3 linked regions of the Homo sapiens genome follow. The protein of the gene in region 3 purifies or fractionates together with the protein of the main gene of each other region. This does not show direct contact. Each region holds a gene or a part of one and is shown on either strand. Other genes may lie near its edges.

Region 1 (3,176 bases), on a different chromosome or scaffold from region 3:
TTGAGTTTCCTTGGGCAGGGTTCTTAACATAGAGGTCTGTGGGGAGAATGGTAGAATTAAGAGAGAGGGAAAACATTTTGAACTGTTTGGTCACTGTATGCTGTAGACCCATGTTTTATGCATTGAAAAACACTGTTCAGAGAAGGGGTCCAAAGCACATAAGGCGTGAAGAAGCCCTCCCTGGTGCCGAGGTTGGAGACAGGAAAACTGGAAGGAGACCTATGGCTTTAGGCAGTTGCTAAAACCCTCTGCTTTCCCTGTAGCCACCTTGACAGCACTGCGGCCAGGAGGAAGGGGAGAGTTGGCTTGGTGGGGTACCTAGGGAACTTTGAGCAGAGACAAGTGGCCCAGCTTCAGAGCTTAGTGCCCAGAGGAGTGACCAGGCCTGGCTTAGCTCTGTGGTGACCCAGGAGGTGCTCTGGAGCTGCCGGAGGGCCTGTGGAGCACTGCAGTCTCCACACAGCAAGTCCCCAGGCAGGTTAATATCCTTTGCAAGGCTGCAGGTAAGTGGGGATACTTCCTATCCTGCTTGGAAATCAGAATCCCAGCTGTGTGTGACCTGAGACAAATCACTCAACCTCTCCCAGCCTCAGCTGCCCCACCTAGAATGTGAGGCTGACCTACCTCTGGCGTAAGGGTGGTAAGGATGGAGGCAGGCAGTGGCCCAGTTTGGACCCCTCATTTTCCCACCAGCCTCTTGACTTTTTCTTTCTGCTTTTCAGGAAAAAAGCCTGTAAATACTTTGAGCAAGGCAAGGGGACCTGCCCATTTGGAAGCAAATGTCTTTATCGCCATGCTTACCCCGATGGGCGGCTAGCAGAGCCTGAGAAACCTCGGAAACAGCTCAGTTCTCAAGGCACTGTGAGGGTAAGGACTTTAGCCATCTCTAGTTGGGGACACTTAGCAGCTGTGGGCATTTCCAGGTACCGTTCCTGGCAGAGAAATGGGGTAGGCAAAAGAACGATCAAGGAACGCAGCCTTCCTGTTGCTCTTAGCAGTAACCAGGCATGTCCACTGGCTGTTTTTGCAGTTCTTTAATTCAGTGCGGCTCTGGGATTTCATCGAGAACCGAGAAAGCCGGCATGTCCCCAACAATGAAGATGTCGACATGACAGAGCTCGGGGACCTCTTCATGCACCTTTCTGGAGTGGAATCATCAGAACCCTAAAGAGTAGATGGTTGCCCTGCATCTTGGGCTCCATCGGCCGAAACTTTCCCAAGCCAGGGTGTGCGGAGCTTCCCTGTACTGCAGCCAAGGTGACGTGTGACTTGGATTTGAGTGGAGTTGGGCTTAGCCTTAGTCTCATTCAATCTCCATTATTACAGCCATGGGGAAGAGTGAAAGATATAAAGTAACCTAATTAAATGTATGGAATTGCTATTTTTATAGCTGATATAGTTACACCTCAAGCCCCTCAGGGGTAACAACTAACAAACACCCAAACTGTTTGGATTGATTGCTTTAAAAAACAAACCTGGCTCTTACCTTTGATCTTTTCTTCCCCAGAAATAGTAAACTTGCAGCTGCCCCTAATGCAGCATATTTTTCTTACCAAAGGAGTCTTCAGCCCTATAAAAGGATTCCTCTATAGTGTATTTCTCTAGTGTATTTAGTGTGTCGTCAAAATTTTGATTTATACAGAGCTTTCAAGAACACACAATGCAAAGTGAGCGCAGCATAGCTGTTAACAAACATACAACTTTTTTCTAGGGCTTTAAGGGTGGTCATTTTTTTCAAGTTCTCTCAAGTGTCCCAAATCAGGGTAGCAATCTTGTTGCCACATGTGCAGCAAACAAAGTGGAAGTATAGATCTTCTTCTCCCTTAGGGAGGCTCTTGAAGGAGCAGGAGGTACAGTACTGGGTAGCAGTCTGGCCCTCCTGTCGTCTGGTTGGTGTTGGGGCCTCCAGCCAGGGCCCTCTAGGGGAACCAAGCCTCTGCTCTCACCTGTGGGTTCTTGCCCATCAGGGTAATTGTATTGAGAACTCAAATATACGTGCACTTACATGTGTGGTTCGTACTCAAGTGATCTATTATCTAGCTGCAAAGCCTGGCTTTGATTTGAAATTTTGTAAAAATTTCATGGCACCCAAGGTTTCTGATTCTGACCCAGCAGTGGTCCTGAAGAGAGCTGATGGCAAGTCTTGTAGTCATTTTGATTTTAATTGAAGGGTGAGCATAACCTTGTGAACCAGCACTAGCTTGTTCCAAGCTGGAATTTATCTAATCTATTTTTGTGTTTAAAAAAGCTGTACCTACCAAATAAATAAATAGTTTATAAAATGTATTACTTAAGGTATTAGCTGAGTTTAGAGTACTTTCTGCTTAATTAATTTTTATACTTAACTCTTCAGTAGAGGTTTACAAAGAGTACAAAGGTTAAATTACAAATTCATTCCCAGCCTAGGCTCTGGGCACATTTCCTGTTCTTGAATTCTGCTCCTGAAGAGGGTGAACAAATGGGGCATTCAAGTTGTGAGCTCAGAATTACTTTAAAAGGAGGTAACAGCCAGCCATTACACCTAAATTTAATTTATTTTATTAAAATAACATAATTGAGGGACCATCAGATAACTGTATTTTGTCAGGTGCAATAAAAACAAAATTAAAACCCAAATCATCAAGAAAACCTGTATTCCTGGCTTCCTTGTATACACATGATGTGACTAGAGAAACAAGGCTGTTTGTTTGTTTGTTTGTTAGAGAAACAAGGCTGGCCCTGCGGCCCCGCCCCATAGGGGCAGCTCCTGGAAGACAAAATTCAGCATGATGGAAGACTGCTCCCTGAGAGGGCTGAGATGCGGATTGGCCGAGTGCCTTGCCTGGAAAACCATCCCAATGCACTGGACACCTTAGAAGCTGTGAAAGGAGGACGTGTCCCCTAAGAAAAGTTCCATAGTACCAAAGCAGGCTCCTTCGGGCGGCCAGAGTCTCGGCAGTCCTGGGCTGTTTGGTGCCTTATGTGCAAAATGTCTGGCGCTGCACCACTCTCTGAAGAAAGTCCCGCCTGTGACATGCATTCCTCCAGAAGCTGATTTCCAAAATCCCATGTGTCTCCACATCAGGGCTGGACTGCCTGCTACCTTACTTCCTCTAAATACTCATGTAGCCAACAGCTGGGGCTGGGCCCCTGCTTTTTGTACTACCATCAACATCCACTTGCGCATCTACAGAAGG
Region 2 (7,049 bases), on a different chromosome or scaffold from region 3:
CTGTAGCTTATTCCCAAGTGGTCAGCAAAAAATGTGTACTATAGAGCATGGTTAAGCAAATATGGTAAAATGTTAACAATCTGTCAATCTAGGTGAAGGGCACACAGGAGTTCATTCTACTAATCCCGTCATTTTTCTCCAAGCTTGATCCTTTCCCTTAATGAAGTTTAAAAAAAAAAAAAAAGGTTACTCACCACAGATTTGGTATCCGTGCTATGGAATAATTTGCAGTGTTCCACAAGTCCTTCCTGATCAAAGTTCTTCTCAGGACAGTAAGGACAAGGAAAGGTGTAACGGTTTGGAACATTCCTGGAAGGTGAAACACAGGAAAAAAGAAAACTTTTCTGTGAGTACCTTTCCATTAAACTTCAACCACAGTACACTCCAAAAAGGAGCAAAGCTCACCAAATGTGTAATGATAAGGATGCTGATGATCACTTCAGACTCAGGTCAAGTGTTGTGAAAATAACAGCTCAGCTGGCCGGGCGTGGTGGTTTACGCCTGTAATCGCAGCACTTTGGGAGGCCAAAGCAGGCGGATCACCTGAGATCAGGAGTTCAAGACCAGCCTGACCAACATGACAAACCCTGTCTCTACTAAAAAATACAAAATTTAGCCAGGCATGGTGGCAGGTGCCTGTAATCCCAGCTACTTGGGAGGTTGAGGCAGGAGAATCGCTTGAACCCGGGAGGCAGAGGTTGCAGTGAGCTGAGATTGCACCACTGCACACCAGCCTGGGCAACAGAGCGAGACTCTGTCTCAAAAAAGAAAAAAAGAATATAGCTCAGCTAACATCTGAAGTGAACACCAGAGTCCTCCCTTGCATACTCCTCCCAAAATACTTGTATCAGCTTTAGCCAGCATAACAATTCATACAACTAAACCCCTGGGCATGCAACCTCTTTGTATTAATAGCAAGAGATGACCTCCACCTAAGGGGAGACTGAGTCATTTACCTTGGCTGAAGAGATGCATCCTTAATGGTGGCCTTCACACCTTCCATGATGTAATTCTGGTATTTGGAACAAGTAGCCACGTGGGACCGGATCTTGGACAGGAAGAACTCAAATAGGAAGAATCAGAGCCCATAAGTTAGTGAGGACCTTGCAACAGGCAAAATATAGTCCCAAACAAGGGCACAAAGAAAACTAGACCTACACCACCCTGGCAAATAATCTCACCAAACTCCTGACTACGCTGATGGGGCTGAAACCCTGATTATTGCAGATTTCCCATTAATACCAAGGCTGCTATTTTATTCGACTAAATCAGGATATCCACTTCCACTCTAAAATAACTCTCCTAGAGGTTTGCTCCTATTCATGATAGGCTGTCTGCTCACAGACAAGCTCCAAATCTAGGATGTTTTTAAAAGTTTTCTATACTAGCATTTAAACTAGTCTCCTTACAGCAAGCCAAAAACCACATTCTGTTATGTGCAGCAGAGAAAAGTGATCCTTTAGGTAAAACATATAAAAGCCACTAACCCTGGTTAAAGTATCTATCACCAGCCTCTGAGAAATAATCTTTAAAATCTAAATTCTCTTTTTTTTTTTTTTTGAGACAGAGTCTCACTCACTCTGTCGCCCAGACTGAAGTGCAGTGGCACCATCTCGGCTCACTGCAACCTCCGCCTCCCGGGTTCAAGTGATTCTCCCACCTCAGCCTCCTGAGTAGCTGGGATTACAGGTGTGTGCCATCAGGCCCAGCTAATTTTCATATTTTTAGTAGAGATGGAGTTTCACCACGTTAGCCAGGCTGGTCTCGAACTCCTGACCTCAAGTGATCTGCCTGCCTCAGCCTGCCAAAGTGCTGGGTTTACAGGCGTGAGCTACCACGCCCGGCCCAGCCTTTCATATAAAATCTAGGCTGTGCAACAGTAAAACAGAAAGAGAAGAAAACCCAGAGAATAGTGCTTCATTACAGGTTTTCTAAAAAGAAAGAAAGTTTTAAGAATTGAAGAAAAGAGGGAAGATAAAGGAAAGAAAAACATTTTCTGAGGCATGCCAACAGTACAATCACTAATCTTGAAAATGGAGAAAAGCAAAAGCATACAGTAAAACAAACAAAAAGCCCATCATGGGCGGAGTACGGTGGCTCACACCTGTAATCCTGAGGGAGGCTGAGGTGGGCCATCACTTCACGCTCCCGAGTTCGAGATCAGCATGGGCAACATGCAAAACTCGTCTCTACTGAAAATACAAAAAAATTAGGCAGGCGTGGTGACACATGCCTGTAGTCCCAGCTACTTGAGAGGCTGAGGTGGGAGGATGGTTTGAGCCTGGGAGGCAGAGGTTTCAGTGAGCTGAGACCACGCAATTGCACTCCAGCCCGGGCAACAAAGCCAGACCCTGTCTCAGAAAAAAAACAAAACAAAACCAAAAACCACATTATGCATGCATAAATAAAGATGAAGAGACCGGGTGCAATGGCTCATGCCTATAATCCCAGCATTTTGGGAGGCTGAGGCGGGCGGGTCACGAGGTCAGGAGATCGAGACCATCCTGGCTAACACAGTGAAACCCTGTCTCTACTAAAAATACAAATATATATATATATATATATATATATCTCTGTGTGTATGTATGTGTGTGTGTGTGTGTGTGTGTGTATATATATATAGCTGGGCGTGGTGATGGGCACCTGTAGTCCCAGCTACTCAGGAGGCTGAGGCAGGAGAATGGCGTGAACCCAACAGGCGGAGCCTGCAGTGAGCTGAGATCACGCCACTGTACTCCAGCCTGGGCAACAGAGTGAGACTCCGTCTCAAAAAAAAAAAAAAAAAAAAAAAAAGAAGACAGTAGGGAATTGTATTTCAATATTTTGAGTTTCTAAAAGTAAACTTCAAAGGGGGAAAAAAATGCTCCAATATTTGAGCTCCAGCTTACCATGATGATTGTCTCACCTCCAGCTCAAGAACTTGACTTTAAGCTACAAACTGAGGAATCCTCAATTTTTTTTTCCTTTTTTTGTAGAAACTGGGTCCACTATATTCCCCAGGCTGCTCTCAAACTTCTGGGCTCAAGCAATCTTCCCACCTCAGCCTCCCAAGGAGCTGGGACTACATGCATACACCACTACACACAGCTGGTTTTGTTTGTTGGTTTGTTTTGGTATATACAGAGTCCCACTATGTTGCCCAGGCTGATTTCGAACTCCTGGGGTCAGTGATCCTCTTGCCTTGGCCTCTCCAAATGATAGGATATAGGCATGAGCCACCATGCCCAGCCTCAAGAGTGAAGCCCCCAATTAAGACACAGAAAATAGCCCTATTCAGCATTGAAATGGCCCTACTATGCATCCCTAATACTAAATCACGCTGAAAAGGAGATGGTAAGGTATATTCTTACTATGGGCATCCATACCGAAGTGTTAAAAATAATGAAACTGACATGCAAGGCTGTCCAATATGTAAGAGAAAAAAAACCTGAAAAGTGGAAAAAAAAAGTTGGGAATGAGTGTACATTTAAAAAAGTGAAAAAAGTTGAAGAAATATATATATTATAGTATAATCTCATTTTGCAAAAATCCTACAACTTGGTTGGTAAAAATTCTACAGTGTTTGTCAAAGGGCAGAAAATGTTATGCAGCTTTCGAAATTAAATCACTTTTTTTTTCCTTGAGACAGGGTCCGGCTCTATCACCCAGGATGGAGTGCAGTGGCACGAACTCAGCTCACTGCAACCTCTGCCTCCTGGGCTCAAGCCATCCTCTCACCTCAGCCTCCCGAACAGTTGAGACTACGGGCACACACCACCATGCCCTGCTAGTTTTTTGTATTTTCAGTAGAGCCGAGGTTTCACCATGTTGTCCAGGCTGGTCTAGAACTCCTGGACTCAAGCAATCCACCCACCTTGGCCTCCCAAAGTGTTGGGATTACAGGCATGAACCACCTTGCCAGGCCTTAAGTTGAACGAATTTTGAAGTAATCTCTGGAATGAGGAACAAGCCTACATTATTGTGTACTTTTGTATGGTCTGCAATTTTAAAAATTTTAATGATTCTAAAATCAACAAGGCTGTGTATATCTCTTGGAAAATAAGACAACAGTATTTCTCCTTTCCAGTAGCAGTTATAACAGGTATGAAAATAAATATACTTGACTCTGATTATACAAGAGCATGGATGCATTTCAAATGTTAGCTATTGTTATTACAATCCAATGATTTCATATTGACTTTTTTTTAAGAGACAGGGTCTTGCTGTCAGCCAGGCTGGAGTGCAGTGGCATGATCATAGATCACTGTAATCCCAAACTCCTGGGCTCAAGTGATCCTCTGGCCTCTGCCTCCTGAGTAGCTGGGCCTACAGGTACATACCACCACACCCGGCTAATTTTATTTTTTTGTAAAGATGAGGTCTCACTATGTTGTCCAGGCTGGTCTCTTAACTCCTAGCCTCAAGCTCTTGCCTCGGACTCCCAAAGAGCTGGGGTTACAGGAATGAGCCACCGCGCCTGGCCATAATTGATCTTTTATAGGAAAAAACTGGGATAACTGATTTCTATGGCTTTCAAACCTAAAATATATACTTAACCAACTCTTAAAAAAAGAAACAAAAACCAGTAAGGTTATGAAAACAAACCAGCCCAGCCATCACCACAGGTAATTGGCATGCACGCGTGCTGTTAGTGACCTAGTCATGCTCTAACTTCAGCAACAACATGGCAGCTGTACGTTTTACCCCAACTTATCATGGAAAGACATGGACTCTTCCACATCACTTCCACATACATTCTTACGGCAGCCATGGCAAGAAGTCTCTGTGCTCTCGATCTGCCGCTCGAGCTCCACGGCTCGGACGCCAGGTGCCAGAGCGCTGCGACACACCCCACAGACAGGCTTCTTCGGCTTCAGACATTCCTGCAGGCATGCAGAGCAAAAGCTAGAACAAGACATACAGAGAACCTCTGTCACGCATCATGGAGACAAGACGACAAATATGGATCAACTTTTAAAAAGACATCAATGGATAATGGAGTAAAAAACAACTTGCTCTCTCCTCCCAGTTCAAATACTAAGTCCTTCCAAGCCAGAAAAAATGAGGGATAGGAGTGGACTACAAAGAACACACAACTACAGAAACAAATGCAAACTCCTGTGATAGACACAGTGAAGGTGTTAAGGTTGAGGCTTCAAGCCTTAGGCCCTGCCACTGAAGGATCTCAGTGGGGTTTCTTGAATCTCCATTTTTTCCTTTGTGAAATGGAGAGAGTAGTACCTACCTCTAGGACTGCTGGGAGGATACAGTTTGTATAGCAGACCCCTGGCAGAGTGTCCAGCCCTTACAAAACGCACCACAAACGGGAGCTGCTATCATTACAGGTGAAGGCAAAGCGCTACAGGAACATAAAGGGAAAATCAACTAGTGACCTGAGAAGGAAAGGGCTGGTAAGACTGCAGTGAAGGCTGGGAGCGGTGGCTCACGCCCGTAATCCCAGCACTTTGGGAGGCCAAGGCAGGCAGATCACGAGGTCAGGAGTTTGAGACCAGCCTTACCAACATGGTGAAACCCGTCTCTACTAAAAATACCAAAATTAGCCAGGCATGGTGGCAGATGCCTGTAATCCCAGCTACTCGGGAGGCTGAGGCAGGAGAATTGCTTGAACCTGGGAGGCAGAGGTGGCTGCACACTCCAGCCTGGGCAACAGAGTGCGACTCTGTCTCAAGGGGGGGGTGGAGGGGAAGACTGCAGAGACGGCATCTCTGATCAGCCTTAAAAGGGTTCAGCTCAGCCAGGCGCGGTGGCTCATGCCTGTAATCCCAGCACTTTGGGAGGCCGAGGCGGGCAGATCACAAGGTCAGGAGATCGAGACCATCCTGGCTAACACAGTGAAACCCCGTCTCTACTAAAAATACAAAAATTAGCTGGGAGTGGTGGCGGGTGCCTGTAGTCCCAGCTACTCGGGAGGCTTAGGCAGGAGAATGGCATGAACCCAGGACGCAGAGCTTGCAGTGAGCCAAGATCGCGCCACTGCACTCCATCCAGCCTGGGAGACAGAGCGAGACTCCGTCTCAAAAAAAAAAAAAAAAGGGTTCAGATGGATCCTTTTGTAGTTCATGAACCTGAGGACTGGGTGTTCATGTGCATGTGTGAGATGTGCCACCCTCGAACCTTGTTACAGATGTTGGCCCATTACCCCTCTGGCATTTTAAAAAAAGAGGTCAGCTAGCAGAGGAAGGGAAGACTATTCTAGGCCTAATTTAGGCTTAAAATTGATATGTATCTGAGGAAATAAAAATCTAACAGACTTTTCCTCATAAACAGTAGGGAGCCAGGAGTTTAAAAGGAAGGTATTAACAAAACAAGGCCAAATCCAGGTTTCAGAAAAATATCTCTGTGCTATCATGGAAAACAAAGTTTTGTTACTTTTTTTTTTTTTTTTTTTTTTGAGACAGAGTCGTGCTCTGTTGCCCAGGCTGAAGTGCAATGGTGCAATCTCGGCTCACTGCAAAATCTGCCTCCCCGGTCCAAGCGATTCTCCTGCTTCAGACTCCCAAGTGGCTGGGGTTACAGGCGCGCATGACCACACCCAGCTAATTTTATATTTTTAGTAGAGACGGGGTTTCACCACGTTAGCCAGGCTGGTCTCGAACTCCTGACCTCTGGTGATCCACCCGTCTTGGCCTCCCAAAGTGCTGGGATTACAGGTGTGAGCCACTGAGCCCAGCCCTATAGTTTTTTTTTTTTTTAGGTGAGAAGGTGAGAAGAGACAAAGTAGAAACCAAACAGATGGCTAAAGGCAGAGGATTGTGAGGGTCTGACTGAAGCAGCAGGGGATGAATTCAGGAAACCATTCACAGAAAGGTAGAATCAGGAGGACTTGATAACTTACTGACTTTGAAGAAAAGAAGTCAAAGATGACCGAGTTCCTATCCTGAAGCCTAGGAAGATGGTAATGCTGAGATAAGGCATACAGAAAGAATGGAGAAGACACCCTGGGCTACTTACCCAACCTGATAGATTAAGACAGTATAACCAAATCTGCCAGAAAGAACTAAAGATATATAATGAAAGGCCATCTTCTGAACACTTGACCATTTTCTACT
Region 3 (7,049 bases):
CTGGTGGAGGGGCCTGCAGCCAGGAAGGGTCAGCACACTGCGAATAGCGTCCTGGTGATGTGCAACGCCAGGGCCTCTACTCTTCCACCCCGCATCTCCCTCCCTCCCTCTGTGCCATGTCTCCACTCTCCCTCATGAAGTCACATGCATCAGTGATACCAACACCCTTCTGAGTGGCAGCATCTGAGGAGTTACCAAACTGAGATAGCAAATTCCTTTCAAGTTCCGGATCTGCCCCACGAAACCTAAAGGCCTGTGGACACGTCACTACTTAATCCCCCAAACCTCAGATTCCTCAGGCATAAAATGGGGCTGTTCAGCCCAACCTTACAGGGTTGGCATGGAAAATGAATGAGATCCCATATACGGAAGCAGTCTGTAGACTCTGGCAGCCCAATGTATAGAATTATGAGCCTTGTCAAATGGAAATCTGAGTTAGAAGCTGTCACCTGTACATTTAAATCCACAAGTCTACCACTGGCTGCTGTCCATCTTGACCCCTTGCCATCGCTGCCTCAGACGGAAACTGACTAACAAAGAACTGATGGACCCGGAACATGGACTGCTGGGCAGAAAATGTTCTCAACTTGGTAAGCATATTGTGGTTACAGAAGATAATGTCCTGTTCTTGGGATGTGTTAAAGGGTGAAAGGAGACAATATATGCCACCTACCTGAAAATGGTGCAGAAAGAGAGAGGGAGAGAGAAAGAGAGAAGTGGCAGCATGTTAAAACCAATGAACGCAGGTAAAATTTACCCAAAGAGGTTTTTTTTAATTATTATTATTCCAATTTTCTTGAATTTCGATTTCCAAAGAAATAGTATTTTAAAATTTTCTTTGGCAAGTTTAAAAATAACAGACAAGAAAACACTCAGATAACTCACGTGATAGCTAGAATACATGTTTACATGAGTATCTCTGAGGGTTTCTGGTTTCTATTCTAAGGAAATCAATAGTAAAGGCACAGTCAGGGACTTCATCAGGGCTGGGAAGGTATCCCCTCTCCTCTCCCGTCTCTGTCACCATCTCCCAGGGCCTCTGCTCCACAGGGAAGCAACACCCCAGCCTAGGCAGGCCACCCTGCCCACACCTGGGGCCAAGCTCCTGACCATGCCCAGAGGAGCAAGAGCAAGGATGTGACTGGTAGCTGTGCCCAGGTACCACCACACATGGAGTCTGAACCTGCTCATCAGCTCAGGCTGGTCCCCTCATGCCCTCTAGCAGTCTGTTCCTATGCAGGGGCAAAGCAACATGGGTTTTGCTGGTGGAGGCCAGTCATGCCTTACCCTTGCCGTAGGAAGTGCCATGAACACCACAGACCCGCCAGTCAAAGTTCTGCTGGCAGATGGCGTCCACAAAAATGGCGCTGGTGCCGTGGAACAGCTGCCGCTCGTCCACGGCCTTCCCTCCGTTCTGCTTCTGCATCTGTCCTTTTTGCCTAGAATCACAGAAGAATGTGTGCTGGGGGCAGAGTGTGCCGGCCACCAAATACAGCCGGCCTGATGCAAAACAACACATTTTTCCAAAATTCCAAAAGTGTCCTGGGACCAAGAGACGCAGGTCACAGGCTACCCTGACTAGGCCTGTAAGCTCCAGCCACAAGCCAGGGTGTGGAAAAGAAGGGGGATCGTGGGAGCTGGGTGAAAACCCTCCCTCCACAGCTCCAGACAGCAGCGGTTCCCTGGACTCCAAAAGCAGAGCAGCCCTTGGAAAATGGGTACCATTTCCCCCAACCCCACCCCCACCTTGCTCCTGCATGGAGCTGAGCCCTGGGATGCTGTAGGAATTTTCAGGCTGCTGGTCAGTGGGTGCCCATCCTTCTCCCCTCTCCCATTCCCAGACTTCATCACTGTGCACAGAGTACACATTACACTACCCCAACCCCATCTGGGGACAGGTCAGCAAGACCCAGCCTGCCATGGTGACCTATTGTAGGATTCCTCCCCACATAGACAGGTGAGTGGGTGCTCAAGGACAAGCCAGTCCTCATGTATGAACCTGAGACCCCTGCTGTCTAGCCACAGCCTTATGTTCCTGGGGCTAATGGTGTGGTGGGCTGTACTGACCCATCCCACTGGTCTCCAGGAAGGCAGAATGGACAAGTGAGAGTGCTAGCTTTGCCACCACTCATGAACGGGACCAGGTGGTATGCTCCAGGAAGCCTCGGTGCCCTCATCTCTACAATGGGATGTGCTACCACACTGCCCTGGGGGAGCGGACGAAGGAGAGCAGACACACAGCTCCCAGCACATGGCAGCCCTAACTGCCGCTCTGCTTTTCCTGGAAACCCGGGCCACATGTGGCAACCAGCCAGTGGTGTGAAGGGACAGAGTCACCAGCCCACCAAGAGCGAGCCCCAACGCACCACTGGTAGACTTCCCAGAGGGCCAGGTTCTGTACTCGCTCAATCTTCTGAACAAAGTAGAAAGGCAGCGTGCGGTTAAAGAGGTTCCAGACCTTCTGATACTCTTCCGAGGAAGAACTAAGGGTGATCTTCTGCAAGGGGCAAATGTTTTTAATGCATTACCATCAACGTGCAGAATATAAATCAGTCCCTTCCCAAAGCTTCTTGTAAACACTAGAACCGCAGAAGCACAAAAGCCCAGAGAGCAGTGACCACATTCTCCTGTGGTTTCTCCAGGCACAGGAGACAATCGGTCCTCATGAAATGTCATTGATAGGTTCTTGGAAACTGCAATTTTAAGTAAAACAACAAACCTCTTGTTTATGTCAGTTAGCATATGGGAAATTGGTTTCGTTAGACAGTATGTTGTGCCACTTTAAGTCAGTTTCCAAGAACCTACTGATGATGTTGAGGATTTACTATGTTTGCAAATTGTAGTCACTTTGCTCCTCATCACTGTGAAACCAATCTAAAGGACAGACACGTGATGCTTAAGCCACCATCGAGGGTATCCCCTGGATGTCCCTGCCTTTTTTTTTTCTTGTCCCACACAGGTCAAAGACACAGGTTGGACTACATGGTCCAAGGACCACAGAGTCGTCTAGACAAACATGTTGAACCCCTTTAGGTCCTTAGCACTTCTTGCCTGCACTGTTGGCATCTGCATGTGCCTTATACAAGCTCAATAAGTCCTCCCAGGACAGGGACCGTCACGTTTTAAAGCTGAGTTAGACAGTGCTCGGCAGCCGGCCAGCTGGCAGACATCAGCCCAGGTGCAGACGGGCAGCCTCAGATGTTAGTCTGCGTACTCTCCTGCACTCAGCACAGCTCCCACTGGTCAGAGCCCCTCAACAAGCTGCCAAATTGACTGTCCATTCTCCTGTCTGCTAGTCGTGAATGCCTTCCCTCCTGACAGTAACCCCATTCCAAATGTCCATCGGACTCAGGTCCTCCCCAGGCTGCTTCTCCTTTTCTCGCTTAATAAAATTGGTATTTATTGGTTAAGCCCAGCCCATAAACTCATTTCTGCCCTTTCTAGCAAATTTCACGCTCATCCTCCTCCCTCCACAAGACAACCCCTCCCCTCAGAGCCACAGCCAACTCCTGGGTGGTGAAAAAACAAAACCCTCTGCAAAAAACAAAAACAAAAATAAAGCCCACATCTGTCACTGCCCTCCTGCCCCAATTAGCCCCAGCCTTACAGCTTCTTCAGTGTTGAGGAATGGCACAGTCTGTTCACACACACCCACTTCTACAGAACACCTTCCTGTCCAGCCCCAGGCGCATGCGTCCCCTACCTGAAAGCCTGGGTCTGGCAGGGCAGAGGAGTCCCAATAGTCTGGGATGCTCTTCGGGCCTGGAAACTTGGTATTGCTACAAAAATGTAAACAAAAACACGTAGACATTTTATTCTTACACAAAGCAAATATACCATAGGTGGTCTCTGCTAGCCAATATCACCAGTCTTGAGTCTCAGCACATCATATTTCAAGAGCAGGTAGAAGGCAAGGAAGAATGTTAGCACGATATTCACAACATGAGAGCACTTTTATCTTTGCCTATGTAGCCAAACTCCAAACAGTCCTGAGAGATCTATTTCTCGCCTGTGTCCCAACTACCACACAAAAGGGATAAAAGGGATGGAGTACATGGTTAAAGGAGCACACACACAGCCATAAACCTTTATCCACAATTCTGAAATTCTAAGAGCTCTAAAGACATTTTTTTAAGGCCTCGATGAGGTATAATTGACATTTTAAAACTTTTTATACAGCTCAGGAAAAGCAGGAGAAAATATGAAATAAAACATTTTTTGAAAAACATAAAAGTGACATCAAAAGTCATTTGGCAGTAGAAATTTGACTGAAGTTAGTAAGAGGCCACTGTGATCTGTATCTATCCTTCTTAAACTGACTATGCATATTGTTTACTGCAGAAATATTAATGTGCTAAAATACAGAGTGTCACGTGATACAAGCATCACATTATCTTTCTAAAAATTAAATAAAAGCAGTTCAAAAGACATATGGATCAAGGGTTCAGGAACAAGGACTGTGAAACTATAATTACAAATCATTCCTATTAAGTTTCAGAATACACTGTTCTTTCTAAATAGATCTACCTTCTGTTTCTGCTGGCATGAAACATATACCTTCATCCTAAGCCTCAAAGAACTCCCACAAATAACTTTCCTGGGAAAATGGCACAGTTCAAAAATAACTAAGCAAGGTCCTACCAGCAAGAATCAGCCAAAAACAGACCCACAAAGACTTAAGATGCTGAAATTATCAGAGAGATTACAAAACAATTATTCTTCCTATGTTTAAAGGAAAAAAAAAGACAAACTTTAAAAACATATGCAAGGAACAGGAAACTATAAAAAGACCTGGAAGATCTAAAAAAGAACCAAATAGAACTTACAGAATTAAGTACAATCTTTAATAATAAAAGTGTAGTGGACAGGCTTAATAGCAGATTAGACCAGCTGGAGGAAGAATCAGTGAGCTGAAACATATGTGAAATGAAATTGTCCAGAATGTGGCCCACAGCAACAAGGAAATGGAAAATGCAGGAAAGAAGTTGAGACATGGAGAACAGTGAGAACTTGAATATGATCAGAACCTAAGTGAAGCTCTAGGAGAGGAGAGACAAGACAGTGGAGGCGATTTTCAAAGAGAACTGATGAGATGCACCTATCCGCAGCTTAAGAAGCCCAAAGAATCTCAACCATGATAAATAAAAGCACATACTTAGATACACTTTAGTGAGGATGCCTACCTCCAAGACAAACAGAAGCTCTTAAAAGTAGCCAAAGGAAAAAAGAGTGATTACTGTCAAAGAAGCACCTGTTAGACCAACAGGCAATTTCTCAAAAGCAACAGTGGAAGCCAGAATACAGTGGAGTGATCATCACAATGATCCAAGAGAAAATCCCTACAACCCAAAATTCTATACCCAGTGAAAATTTCCTTCAAGATTGATGGCAAAATAAATACATGTTGGCCAGGCGCAGTGGCCCACGCCTGTAATCCCAGCACTTTGGGAGGCCGAGGTGGGCAGATCACTTGAGATCAGGAGTTCAAGACCAGCCTGACCAACATAATGAAACCCCATCTCCACCAAAAATACAAAAATTAGCCGGGCATGGTGGCGCACGCCAGTAGTCCAAGCTACTCAGGAGGCTGAGACAGGAGAATCGCTTGAACTCAAGAGGCGGAGGTTGCAGTGAGCCAAGATCATGCCACTGCACTCTGGCCTGGGCGACAGTGCGACTCCATCTCAAAATACATACATACATACATGCATACATACATACGTACATACATATTCAGACAAACCAAAAACAGTTTTCCAACAAATCTTCATCGAAGGCAGCCTTGTCCAACCTGCAGCCCGCAGGCTGCATGTAACCCAGGACAGCTTTGAATGTGACCCAACACAAATCTGTAAACTTTCTTAAAACATTATGAGATTTTCTTGTGGTTTTTATTCTTTTAGTTCAGCTATCGTTAGTGTTAGTGTATTTTATGTGTGGACCAATTCTTTTTCCTCTAATGTGGCCTGGGAAAGCCAAAAGATTGGACACCCCTGATCTAAGGTAATCTGAAAGGACAAAGTGGTAAAAATGTGAGTAAATTTAATGAAACTTTCAGAGTATAAAATAATGGTGCCTCTTGAGGTTTAAAAAAAGTTGAGAGGAAGGCAAATGGAAGAAAAGATAGGAGGGCAAAGATATTGATTTACTTGTACTTAAGTGAAGAACATGTAGTTTCTACCATAGCCTTTAAAATATACATATACACAAAAGAAGGTAAGAAAAGAAAAAATAAGACCCAATCACATGAATGAAACATTTTCATAGAGGATGGGCAACATGGTGAGACCCTGTCTCCACAACAAATAAAAAAATTAGCTGGGCATGGTGGCGCATGCCTGTGGTCCCAACTACTTGGGATGCTGAGGTGGGAGGATTGCTTGAGCCCGGGAGGTGGAAGGTGCAATAAGCCGTGATCAGGTCACTGCATTCCATCCTGGGTGACAGAGTGAGACCCTGTCTCATAAATAAATAAATAAATAAATACATAAATAAATTTTACATGACACTCCTGTATTATGACTTCTGAATATGGACATTACATTTTATGACCTCATTAATTGTGTAAACAGAAAAGTTGTTTCTGAAAGTGATCTACCCTCAGATTCCCAATTGGCCATGCAGGCCCAGGCAGACTTGCTTACTGGAGTTAATGACAACCAGCTGCTGGCACATGGGTCAGAGAGAAGAACTGAACACTTCATCTGTGTGAACAGTGTGTGACACTCCGCTTACAGGAGACCCCAAATCACCCATATCTTAGTCTGAATCACTTTTAGTTTGGACATTTGGCATCTTCTTGTGGCCCCCTAAAAACTAAATTAGAATAAGAGAGATCTACTCTCAGAAAGCAGAGAGACTTTTCCAAACCTTGTCTAGGGTAGGCTTTGTATAGGAAAAGAATAAAAAATGACTTCCAGAAATAGGAGGGTCATAATCAACCAAAACTCTAAATCCAGAATCAGTAAGACACTGATACATTTAACTAAAATAATAAGAGATATATATTTATGGTAAAATACTTCACAGGCAAAGTCAAAAGGCAAACA

Evidence for each region. Proteins that work in one complex are often made in the same cells at the same time.
Region 1: the proteins of PARP12 (region 3) and MKRN2 purify together in Homo sapiens (co-immunoprecipitation; 3 studies listed by BioGRID and IntAct, with this or other methods). This does not show direct contact.
Region 2: the proteins of PARP12 (region 3) and RNF114 purify together in Homo sapiens (affinity purification with mass spectrometry; 4 studies listed by BioGRID and IntAct, with this or other methods). This does not show direct contact.

The regions. Positions count from the first base shown.
Region 1 is NC_000003.12:12,581,086-12,584,261, forward strand, and holds the end of MKRN2 (E3 ubiquitin-protein ligase makorin-2), read left to right. Parts: intron 1-722; coding exon 723-867; intron 868-1,030; coding exon 1,031-1,168; 3' UTR 1,169-2,628; downstream 2,629-3,176. UniProt on the Homo sapiens protein: E3 ubiquitin ligase catalyzing the covalent attachment of ubiquitin moieties onto substrate proteins.
Region 2 is NC_000020.11:49,939,396-49,946,444, reverse strand, and holds part of RNF114 (E3 ubiquitin-protein ligase RNF114), read right to left. Parts: intron 6,150-7,049; exon of another isoform or gene 6,045-6,149; intron 4,885-6,044; coding exon 4,734-4,884; intron 1,064-4,733; coding exon 957-1,063; intron 310-956; coding exon 195-309; intron 1-194. UniProt on the Homo sapiens protein: E3 ubiquitin-protein ligase that promotes the ubiquitination of various substrates. In turn, participates in the regulation of many biological processes including cell cycle, apoptosis, osteoclastogenesis as well as innate or adaptive immunity.
Region 3 is NC_000007.14:140,024,910-140,031,958, forward strand, and holds part of PARP12 (protein mono-ADP-ribosyltransferase PARP12), read right to left. Parts: intron 3,780-7,049; coding exon 3,704-3,779; exon of another isoform or gene 3,703-3,703; intron 2,498-3,702; coding exon 2,367-2,497; intron 1,440-2,366; coding exon 1,288-1,439; intron 1-1,287.